Linked DNA regions of Homo sapiens: region 2 is linked to region 1. Evidence: fine-mapped expression QTL. A gene starts in region 1. The other region holds a variant in brackets. All regions are shown on one strand. Distances are from middle to middle. Region 1 holds the start of DENND6B (DENN domain containing 6B). Region 2 overlaps PPP6R2 (protein phosphatase 6 regulatory subunit 2).

Region 1 (5,366 bases):
CACACCTGGCTAATTTATTTTTAATTTTGGTAGAGACAGGGTCTCACTATGTTTCCTAGGCTAGTCTGGAACACCTGGCCTCAAGTGATCCTCCTGCCTCGGCCTCCTAAAGGGCTGGATTATAGGCAGGACCACTGCGCCCAGCCCAAGAGGTGAGTTTTCAAGAGCTGAGAAGGCGGAGCCAGGCCCTTTCCTAAGCTGACCTGTACACTCCAGTCACCCCACAGTCCTGCCCAGCCCCTCACAAGCCAGATCCCTTGTCACCCCACAGCCCTGCTGGCCCCTCTCAAGCTGGACCCCTCATCTCTCAAGCAGGCTGCACTGCACTCATTTCCATGATGCTCCCATGCGTACAGTTGCGGGGGTATCCTGTGAGGGCTAAGGGGGAGTCCTGTGAGCACTATGGACTCTGAACCACTTACTCTCCATATCACTGGCACATAGTGTGAACTCCTAAAGGGCAAGAGCCTTGTCTACTCACTTACATGCTGGGCACCAGTATTGTGGGGCTGGGCTGGTGATAGCTGCTCAATGTGATCTACGGTTTTGTTTTTTGAGACAGAGTTTCACTCTTGTTGCCCAGGCTGGAGTGCCATGGCGCGATCTCGGCTCACCACAACCTCCGCCTCCTGGGTTCAAGCGATTTGCCTGCCTCAGCTTCCTGAGTAGCTGGGATTACAGGCGTGCGCCACCACGCCCGGCTAATTTTGTATTTTTAGTAGAGACAGGGTTTCTCTGTGTTGGTCAGGCTGGTCTCAAACTCCTGAACTCAGGTGATCTGTCCGCCTCGGCCTCCCAAAGTGCTAGGATTACAGGCGTGAGCCACCATGCCCAGCCTTCAAAGTGATTTACTGAATGAGTAACTGAATCACCAGCTCCTTGCCTTTTGCTTATGTTGGCATTTTGGGAGAGGGGTTACCTGAAACAGGACCCCCTCCCCTGTCTCTTCTCAGCATCCAAGACTTATTTACCTAAGCCCATTCCTTCCTCTGAGCTGCATGCATCCCAACTAGAGTCTTCCTTCCATATCGCAGAACCAAGCACAGTCCTGGGGCTTTGCAGTGCTTAGCTGGGCTGAGCTGTGACTGAGTTGCACAGTGGGTGCTCCCTAAGTCTGTAAGTGACTAAAACGACCTCGATCTTCCCTGTGACTTCCAGGTGAGGGAGGAAAGGCAAGAGTCATGTGCTCAGGCCCCGGTGGATCCACTGCCAGGTTTCTGCACAGACTCAGTGATCTGCAGGTGCCCAGATCATTGCTATGGAGGGTTTCGCTCATGGACCTGGGTCCCCAACACTCTGCCAGCTGACCATGCCCCTAGTCCGAGCTGAGCATCCCCAGCAAAAGCTCAGGAGTCCAAGCACACACAGCCTTCAACAGCTCAGAAATAACTTTCCGAATGGGTTTTAGAAAATAACACGAGAATGTCTTAAGGAACAGAGGAACCTCCTTTTTTTTTTTTTTTTTTTTTGAGATGGAGTCTCACTTTGTCGCCCAAGCTGGAGCGCAATGGTGCAATCTCTGCTCACTGCAACCTCCCCCTCCCGGGTTCAAGCCATTCTCCTCCTCAGTCTCCCGAGTAGCTAGGACTACAGGAGTGTGCCACCTCGCCCGGCTAATTTCTGTATTTTTAGTGGAGATGTGGTTTCACCATGTTGGCCAGGATGGTCTCAAACTGCTGACCTTGTGATCTGCCTGCCTCGGCCTCTCAAAGTGCTGGGATTACAGGCATGAGTCACCGCGTCCGGCCAGGAACCTCTTAACTTCTTTTGTGATTTTGTGGGGAACAATCTGGGCAACAGTATTGAACTAAGAAAGGTTTTCAACCCTGGGCAGGTCACCACACTTCTTGGTACTCAGCCCCCACCCAGTGATGCTGTTTGAGGCTGTGCACCTGCTGGGGACCGTGTGTGGTGGGAGGGGCTCCAGAGAGTGCTAGAGTTAATGCTTTTCTGTTTAGAAGACTATATGCTTCTCATGGCCTCTTGGAGTTCAGCAGGGCCTTAGAAAGCATCTCCCAACCACAGAGACGCGCTGCCTGGCTTTCCTGATGATGATGATTTGGCCTGATCTTGGACACCTGCGGTAATAGAGAGCTCACTACCCCTCACGAGGTTCCTTGCGCCAGCGCGGGGAAGCCTCCCTCCATCTGCAGGTGGGCCTCCCCTGTGCTGGTCAGCTCCCTGGTGTGTGTTACACAGGACACAGAGAAGATCATCCTGCGGGGCCTCCCTGGAGGAAAGGAGGCTGCCTGTGTGGGTAGGTGAGTGGAGGCCTGCAGGCAGCAGAAAGACCACATCGAAAGCCCATGGGCACAGCCGATGAACAGACCCCCACGAGCAAGAACACCACAAGACGCAGGTGGAGGGACGGGGCCCATGGGGTCTGGATCTGATGCTAGGTGAACAAGGAGGCGCTGCAGGGTTTTAAGCAGGAGAGCCACAAAGGTTGAACTCTGGGGTGCAGCTGGGGTGGGGATGACATCAGTGATGGCAGCAAAGGAACGGATCCGAGACCTTTGTTGCAGAAGGAGCCGTCAGCCTCGCCTATGCCCAGAGATGGGATGCGGAGCGGAGGGTAAGCCCGGGACTCTGGCGGGAGCCACTGAGGGGATGAAGGTGTCACTGCTCCGGTGGGGAATGGAGGGGGGAGATGTGAGACATTTACTGGGAAAAATCGAAAGAGTACCACTTAGGTTATGCAAAATGCTCCATCCCAATGTGAAGACAAGATCCGACTCCGAGCAGCTCGCCTTCCCTCCTCGGCCTGGGGAGCGCTTCTGGAGCCCGGAGAAGAGGCCCCTCCAGGAGGCGGCGGCCGAAGGCCAGGGAGAGTGCGGGGCGGCCGAGGGCCCCAAGCGAGGCGGGACTGGCCCCGAGAGGCGCAGCCCTGCCCACCCGCCCGCGCCCGCGCTCGCGCCCGCTCACCTCCAGCGCCTGGCCCAGCTCCAGGTCGAAGGTGACCACGCACACACACTCCAGCCAGGCGGAGAAGCGCGCCCAGGGCGCCGCCGGGGTCCGCGCCGCGCGACCTGAAGACGTGGGTCCAGCCGCGCCCAGGCAGCCGCGAGCCCGGCGAGGCCCTGTGCCCAACAGCGCGTCCATGGCGGCGGCCGCGGGTTGCCGGGGAAACGCGGGCGGGGGCGGCGCGCGTCCGGGCCGCTCCTCAGAACAGTCGAGCGGCCGCCGCGGCCCAGTGCGGCTCCCGCGCGGCCGCGCGCCCCCTAGCGCCCGAGAAGCGCCAGCGGCCGGGCGCCGCCCAGGGCACCAGCGAGCCGGACGCGCGCGGGCCAGAGCGGCCGGAGCCCACTGGGGGACTTCCGGGGAAGCGGCCGAACTGGGGCCTTCCAGGGTCCACGCCGTCTGAGGCCCGAGAGAGTCGGTTCGGCCCCGGTGTTCGCGGATCCCGGCTCGCGGGAGCCTCGGGGCCAGGCCAGGGAGGCAGAGCAAGCTGCAGCCAGCCGGCGCCGGGCTCGTCGGGCTTCGCAGGTCCGGCCAGCCTACCTCGCCCCACCGCGCAGGGGCCAGCGGCGTCGCGGGCGTTTTCGTGGCGGAATGGCGTCCTCACTGAGCGCCCAGCCACCACCGCGGACTCGCGCTCGCTTCCTCTGGGGCCCGCGCGGCCTGGGGTCGTGTCTGACCGCGGGTGTCCACGCAACACCTCTGCAGTTTCACTTTCCGGGGGAATCGCGGGGACCTGGAGCGAACTCTTCCCTCCCTCGCGAGGGCCCCGGGCCCCGCTGTGGTCCACAGAGCACCTTGAGGCCCGGCGTGGAAGGGCGAGTTTGGGGCTGTCGGTAACTTAATGAGGCACGCCTTTGAGTCGTGGGCCTCATGACGTTTCCGTGGAAGGCGGGCCGCATATACTGTGGTGGTCCCTTCAGATTACCACGTGTTGGCCAGACGCGGTGGCTCACGCCTGTAATCTCACCGCTTTGGGAGGCCGAGGTGGGGTGGCGGATCACGAATCCAGGAAATCGAGACCAACCTGGTGAAACCCTGTCTCTACTGAAAATACAAAAATTAGCCGGGCGTGGTGGCTGGCGAGCGCCGTAACCCCAGCTATTGGGGAGGCTGAGGCAGGAGAATCGTTTGAACCCCGGAGGCGAAGCTTGCAGTGAGCTGAGATGTCGCCATTGCACTCCAGCCTGGGCGACAGAGTGAGACTCCATCTCAAAAATAAAAAAATAAAAGATTACCACGTGTTGTTCGGATCATCTGGCCTAGGTGTGGGGTAGGCTGTCCCATCTAGGTTTGTCACATAACAAAATCGCCTAATGACACATTTCTCAGGACATAGCTTCACCGTTGAGTAGCACATGGCCGTATTGTTTTTTGTTTGTTTGTTTCTGTTGTTTTTTTTGAGACAGAATGTTGCTCTTGTTGCCCAGGCAGGAGTGCAATGGCATGGTCTTGGCTCACTGCAACCTCTGCCTACTGGGTTCGAGCGATTCTCCTGCCTCAGCCTCCCGAGTAGCTGGAATTACAGGCGTGCACCACCACGCCAGGCTAATTTCTGTATTTTTGGTAGAAACGGTTTCACCATTTTGGCCAGGCTGGTCTCGAACTCCTGAGCTCAGGTGATCTGCCCGCCTCGGCCTCCCAAAGTGTTGAGATTACAGGCGTGAGCCACTATGCCAGGCCCGACTGTATAGCTTTTATTTTTATTTTTAGAGGAAAGGTCTCACTCTCTCCCAGGATGGAGTGCAGTGGCCCATTGCAGCTCACTGCAGCCTCGATCTCCTGGCTCAAGCTATCCTGCCACTCAGTCTCCTAGGTAGCTGAGGCTACAGGCACACGCCGCCATACCCCATTATTTTTTTATTTTTATTTTTTGTTCGTTTTTGTGGAGATGGGGTCTCGTGCTGCCTGGGCTCATTTTCATTTCTCTTGGGCGTGCATAGAAACCAAATTGCTGAGGCATAACCTGGGTATATGTTTAGCTTTCCCCAAAGCAGCCATACATTTAAAAACATTCCTACCAGGCCAGGCGAGGTGGCTCATGCCTGTAATCCCAGCACTTTGGGAGGCTGAGGCTAGTGGATCACCTGAGGTCAGGAGTTTGAGACCAACCTGGCCGACATGGTGAAAACCTGTCTCTACTAAAAAATACAAAAATTAGCCAGGCATGGTGGCGGTCACCTGTGATCCTAGCTACTCAGGAGGCTAAGGCATGAGATCGCTTGAACCTGGGAGGTGGAGGTTGCAGTGAGCCGAGATCAAGCCACTGCACTCCAGCCTGTGTGACAGAGCGAGACTTTGTCTCAAAAAAAGATAAAAAAAGAAAATGGAAACATTCCTACCAACAGTTTATGTTTCCTTTGCTCCACATCCTTCCCAACATTTGGTGTTGCCAAGCGTCTTCATTG
Region 2 (5,366 bases), 36 kb after region 1:
CTTTCTTTTCTTTTGATGTCTTTGGTTTTGGTATCAAGGTAATACTGGGACCCATAGAATGAGTTGGGAAATTCTTCATTTCTTTTACAGATCAGATTTCTATCCGGGATTATTTTCCTTCAGGATTTCTTGTAATGTGGGTATGATAAGGACAAATTCCCTCAGCTTTTGTTTGTCTTAAAATGTCTTTATTTATATTTTTGTTTTCAAAGGATATTTTTGCTTGATACAGAATTCTAGGTTAACAGCTTTTTTTTTCCCTTTCAGCACTTTTTTTTTTTTTTGAGATGGACTCTTGCTCTGTCATGGAGGCTGGAATGCAATGGCACAATGTCGGCTCACTGCAACCTCCATCTCCTGGGTTCAAGCGATTCTCCTGCCTCAGCCTCCCAAGTAGCTGGGACTACAGGTGCGTGCCACCACGCCTGGCTGATTTTTGTATTTTTAGTAGAGATGGGGCTTCACCGTGTTGGCCAGGATGGTCTTGATCTCTTGACCTCATGATCTGCCTGCCTTGGCCTCCCAAAGTGCTGGGATTATAGGCGTGAGCCACCATGCTCAGCCTTTTTTTTTTTTTTTTTTAAGAGAGACAGGGTCTCCTCTGCTGCCCACTTGGAAGTGCAAGTGGTATGAACACATGATCATGACTCACTGCAGTCTTGAACTCTCAGGCATAAGAGACCCTCCTGCCTCAGTTTCCTGAGTTGCTAGGACTGCAAGTACATGCCACCACACCTGGCTAATTTAAAAAAAGGTTTTTAGAGATGGGGTCTCTCTGTGTTGCTCAGGCTGGTCTTGAACTCCTGGCTTCAAGCAATCCTCCTGCCTGGACCTCCCAAAGCATGGGGATTATAGGTGTGAGGCACCATTCCTGGCCCAGGAGATCTGTATTTTTATCCCTGTTTACCGAGGAGCCACAGAGAAGCTGGCAGTTAGCTACACTGTCAGAGCTCACAGATAGGACACCTATTGGGTGTGAGCCAGGGAGCTGACCTGTGCTTCTGCCCACTGTTGCTGCTCACACCAGTCTCTCTCAGGTTTGGCACTGTGTAGAGTCTGTCAGTATCTGTTTTCTCTGCTAGACGTCAGGTTCCTTGGGGCATGACTAGGTTTGTCCCATTATTAGCTACATTTGTTGCTGAATGAACTGACTGATGCCCAGTGTCCTCTCTCTGGGCTACTGTGGACAGTCAGACCTTTAGGAGCTCTTCAAGAATTTGACTGTCACTCATCATCCTGTTGACTGCTCCACTTTGAAGACTTGACTTCTCTCTCCTCATGATCCCACCATCTCTAAGCCTGTGGAACTCTGCTCTGACCCTTTCTCAGCTCTTTGCTGTGATGCCCTTCCTGGACTAGTTCGGTCCTGGGTAGTGCCTTCCTGTCATCACCCTCAATCTTGGTCATTCCTTTTGGATTTCCTTTGATAACTCCTTTTTTTCTTCATTGACTCAGTCAGAATCTGGTTATCATATGGAGACTGAGAACATGGGCTTTGCTCTCAGCCAAACCTGGGTTCAAGTTCTAGAACGGATACTTACTAGCCCATGACGTTGCGCTAGTCATGTAATTACTGAGACCTCTGCTTTTTACTTGTGAACTGGGGGTTGGTAGGAAACTACCTGCTGCATTAGGCTTTGAGCTTTGAGTGTACGGATGAAGCCAGCTACTGCCACTCTCCTGTGGCTGCTGGAACCCTAAAGGCAGTTTGTTGGCTCTTACTTCTTCTGTGCGTCTTGTTTGGACTTGAGCTTTGTTCACTGCCCCAGTTTCCTCCCTGCTGCTTTTTGGTGCTGTTTTCTGCTTGTTTGACAATGCTTTTTATCTAGCTTGCCTTCAGCTATTTTTCCTTCAACAGTCTCAGCCCAGAGTATGCCCTGCTTGTCTTCCTTTGACCCAGGACCCAGAGTATGCCCTGCTCGTCTGCCTTTGACTCTTTGTTCTGGTACTTGTTTTCCCAGGATTATATTATTGACAACAAATATAGCATAGGTGCGCTGTCTGTCTTGTGGTGCGCGTAGGTGCGGACTAGGGCCTTGCTGTGGTGGGCCTTTGGTTTCCTGCAGTTGATTGTTTTTCTCTCTAGGCCCCTTGGAGGCATCTGGTATTAGTCACTGTCCTAGGGCAGTGGTGGCAGTCATGACTGTTCTCTGTCTTGGAGTCAACACTTTTACCTGCAGTGCACATGCAGCAGGCACTTGCCCAAGGTTCCAGAGCTGCTCAGTGATGGAAACTGGACTTTATGCCTGGACCTTTGTGGTCAGGGACTGCCCTGATGTGGCCAGGCCTCCCTGGCTCAAGAGGTTCTCTGGCTGCCTGGAGGGTCTGCATTGGGCTCCAGGAAGGGGAGGAGTCGGGGCTAGGGCCCTTAGCACTGGTGATGAGGAAGGTGCATCCTCATAATGCTGGCCATCTCTGTCCTTAACTGGGAGAGCTGCCATGGTTGCTAGTGTTGAGCAGATGGAGGTTTTCAGTTTTCACTTGAGCCTTCATCCTATGTAACAGCCAGGAGGATACTCTTCTGAGCCTGGCGTGGGCCTGACAGCCATCTCTCGGGGCTGTGTGTTAAAGTCACCTTTCTGAGACTTTGGTGGGAGACCAGCTGGGCCTCCGCTGCTGGGAGGAGAATTGCTACCTTGGGAGCTTGAAGACCTTGGAATGTGCAGCGACGTCAGCTCTTCTCAGCCCGTCGCTGAGTCCTTACTGTGTTCCCGTTGCAGAGCACGTGCTCTGCATGGAGGCCTCATGCCATCCTTAGTTGGTGGAAGGGCTCAAAGACAGGCAGGGTGCTAGGGACTGAATTGTGTCGTGTCCACCCCAGATTCCTATGTTGAAATCCTAAGTTCCATTTAGTGGTATTTGGAGGGAGGCCTTTAGGAGATAATTAGGTTCCGTGAGGTCACCAGGTGGGGCTCTCAAGATGGGACTGACACCCTCATACAAAGATACACCAGAGAGCTTGCTCTCACCCTCCCTGCTGTGAGGACACAGTGAGAAGGCAATGGTCTAAGGGCAGGGAAGACAGGCTTTCTCAGCAACCTAATTGGCCAGCACCTTGACCTTGGACTTCTAGGCCCCAGAACTGTGAGGAATAATTGTCTGCTGTTGAAGGTGTTGT[A/G]TTCTGGCCGCCTAAGCATACGAAGACACCGGGTCAGTGGAGGGCAAGAAGGTGGCTGGCTCTCTGGCAGAGCAGTCATTGAAGACTGGCTCCTTAGCCACTGGTGGCCTGAGGATGTATTTAGCTTGTCCTGCATTTTATTGGCCCACATAGTGTTCAAAAGTTAATTATAAACATGAAGATGTGGGGATTTAAAAAAAATGTGGATTTTTGTCACTTCTTGTAGAAGCAGACATGTGCTGGTGCCCTGTGTCCTTGCACGGCTGTGATTGCTGGGGTGGGCCTGTCTCTGCTCCCTTCCATGCCCTCTTGTGCTGCAGCCTTCACTCTGCTGCTGTCTTTTCCGCCAGCTTCCTTCCTTACACTTAGCATCTTGCCTTGTTCTGCAGGCCTTTAAGTTGCAATCTGTGCTTTAGGATGTGGCAGGAGAATCAGCAGTCGGGTGACTGGGCACTTCTCCATTGCCACAGTTAAGAAAGGCTTTTACTTCAGAATTATAGTGCTCTAGTATGTTCATCTCTGAGTAGAGCAAGCTTCCTTTTTTTCCCTTTCATATTCCTGGTGTCTGGAGTTAGCCTAGGCCTGAGTGCTTCCAATGCTCATGCAAAGCTTTTTCCGGAGGAAGATTCTCCACCTTTTCACTGTGTTTCTTGGCTCTTCTTCTTGAGGGCATATGGTAGAGTCAGGAGCTGGCAACCTGCAGAATGGAGAAGCCAGCTCCGCTGTCCGCAGCTGCTGCTCATGAGCCTTTCAATCTCTCTCCTGCTTCTGCTCTTACGGACGGACCTGGAGTCCTACTAGAGCTGGGCTCATCTGACCATTCAGCGTGCTCCAGGGGGACTTGTTTCAGGATCCAGTCTCTGCTGTTTCCTCATCAATTTGGTTCCATTTACTTATTTTACTAGAAAATTTTAAAGTAAAGGGTGAAGAATAACCAAGACAAGTGTGAAAAAGAATAAGAAGGGAGTTGCTGTAACAGATTTTCAAACTTTTTTTTTTTTTTTTTGAGACGGAGTTTTTGCTCTTGTCGCCCAGGCTGGAGTACAGTGGCGCAATCTCGGCCCACTGCAACCTTTGCCTCCCGGGTTCAGGCGATTCTCCTGCCTAAGCCTCCCGAGTAGCTGGGATTACAGGCATGCACCACCACGTCTGGCTAGTTTTTTTGTATTTTTAGTAGAGACGGGGTTGCACCATGTTAACCAGGCTGGTCTCAAACTCCTGACCTCAGGTGATCTGCCCACCTCGGCCTCCCAAAGTGCTGGGATTACAGGCTTGAGTCACCGTGCCTGGCCCAGGTTTTCAGACTTATTGTGAGGCCAGTGGAATGGATAGCCTGGAAAAGGACCCTGTATAAATGGGAACTTGGTATATGAGAGAAGTGTCATACTTGAAATATGTATTTAAAGCAATGTACCATTTTTAGGTATATAAGTCATAAAATAATGAAATTACGGATACTGCAAGTTAGTGATTGTCTCTCAAGAAGGGGATTGCTTGAGTTCCTGGGTTCCTCAGTGTCGTAGAAACATTTGTTTAAGAAGGAGGCACATACAAACAAATGTTAGTGTTTGTTAAGTCTCATCACATGGATATTATGTCCTTCTCTAGACTTCAATATATTTAAAAAATTTCATAATTAAAAATAAAAATATTTAAAACTGAGTTATAATTCTCTGAAAGATATAAACAGTCTTGTGAGAGCACTGAGGAGGGACTCAGAAAGTTGACAAAGGTAGCTATAGATGGTCTTCAGATAGGAAGATCAGGCAAGAGTTTGTCAAATAGAGAAAGTGGGAAGAAGGCATTCCAGTCAGAGGGTCTGTGTGTGCAAAGGTGTTAGCTGGGGGAGACACTCAGCATATTTAGATAGTTTTGGTACGGTTATGGAATCAGGTGGGGATGAGGAAAGAGTGCCAAAGTTGTATTGTGTGCGGGTCCCACTTAATGTGTCATCGTGTAGAGGCTTACAGCAGAAGTACGGTGTATTCTTTATTCCCTGTTTGTCTTTTTCTACCTTATTTTGGATTAAGAATGTTTTTATGTGTGATGGTATTAGAAGGTGGGCATAAAAAGAAAAAAAATCTTTTATGATTCTCTTTGGGTCTTTGTATATCTTCCATGTCTTTACTTAATCTTTCCTTTAGGTTCTTGAACATATGAGATACTTTTTTTTTTTTTTTTTTTGAGACGGAGTTTTGCTCTTGTTGCCCAGGCTGGATTGTAATGGCGCAATCTCGGCTCACCGCAA

What was found. PIP is the estimated chance that this variant, and not a neighbour inherited with it, causes the effect. A credible set is the group of variants that fine-mapping cannot tell apart.
Region 2: its variant is the best candidate, but not a certain one, in a credible set for the expression of DENND6B in whole blood (TOPMed, PIP 0.80).

The regions. Positions count from the first base shown.
Region 1 is chr22:50,323,887-50,329,252 of GRCh38, forward strand. DENND6B (DENN domain containing 6B) reads right to left here and starts at 3,126. Exons shown (of 20, transcript NM_001001794.4): 1 at 2,926-3,126. The coding sequence starts at 3,102. RefSeq lists a silencer at 2,875-3,514.
Region 2 is chr22:50,359,787-50,365,152 of GRCh38, forward strand. The region is part of intron 1 of PPP6R2 (protein phosphatase 6 regulatory subunit 2); the gene reads left to right. Among named protein-coding and RNA genes, the nearest start is that of PPP6R2, 19 kb to the left of the region's middle. RefSeq lists an enhancer at 1,668-1,717. The variant A/G (reference allele first, on the strand shown) is at 3,119.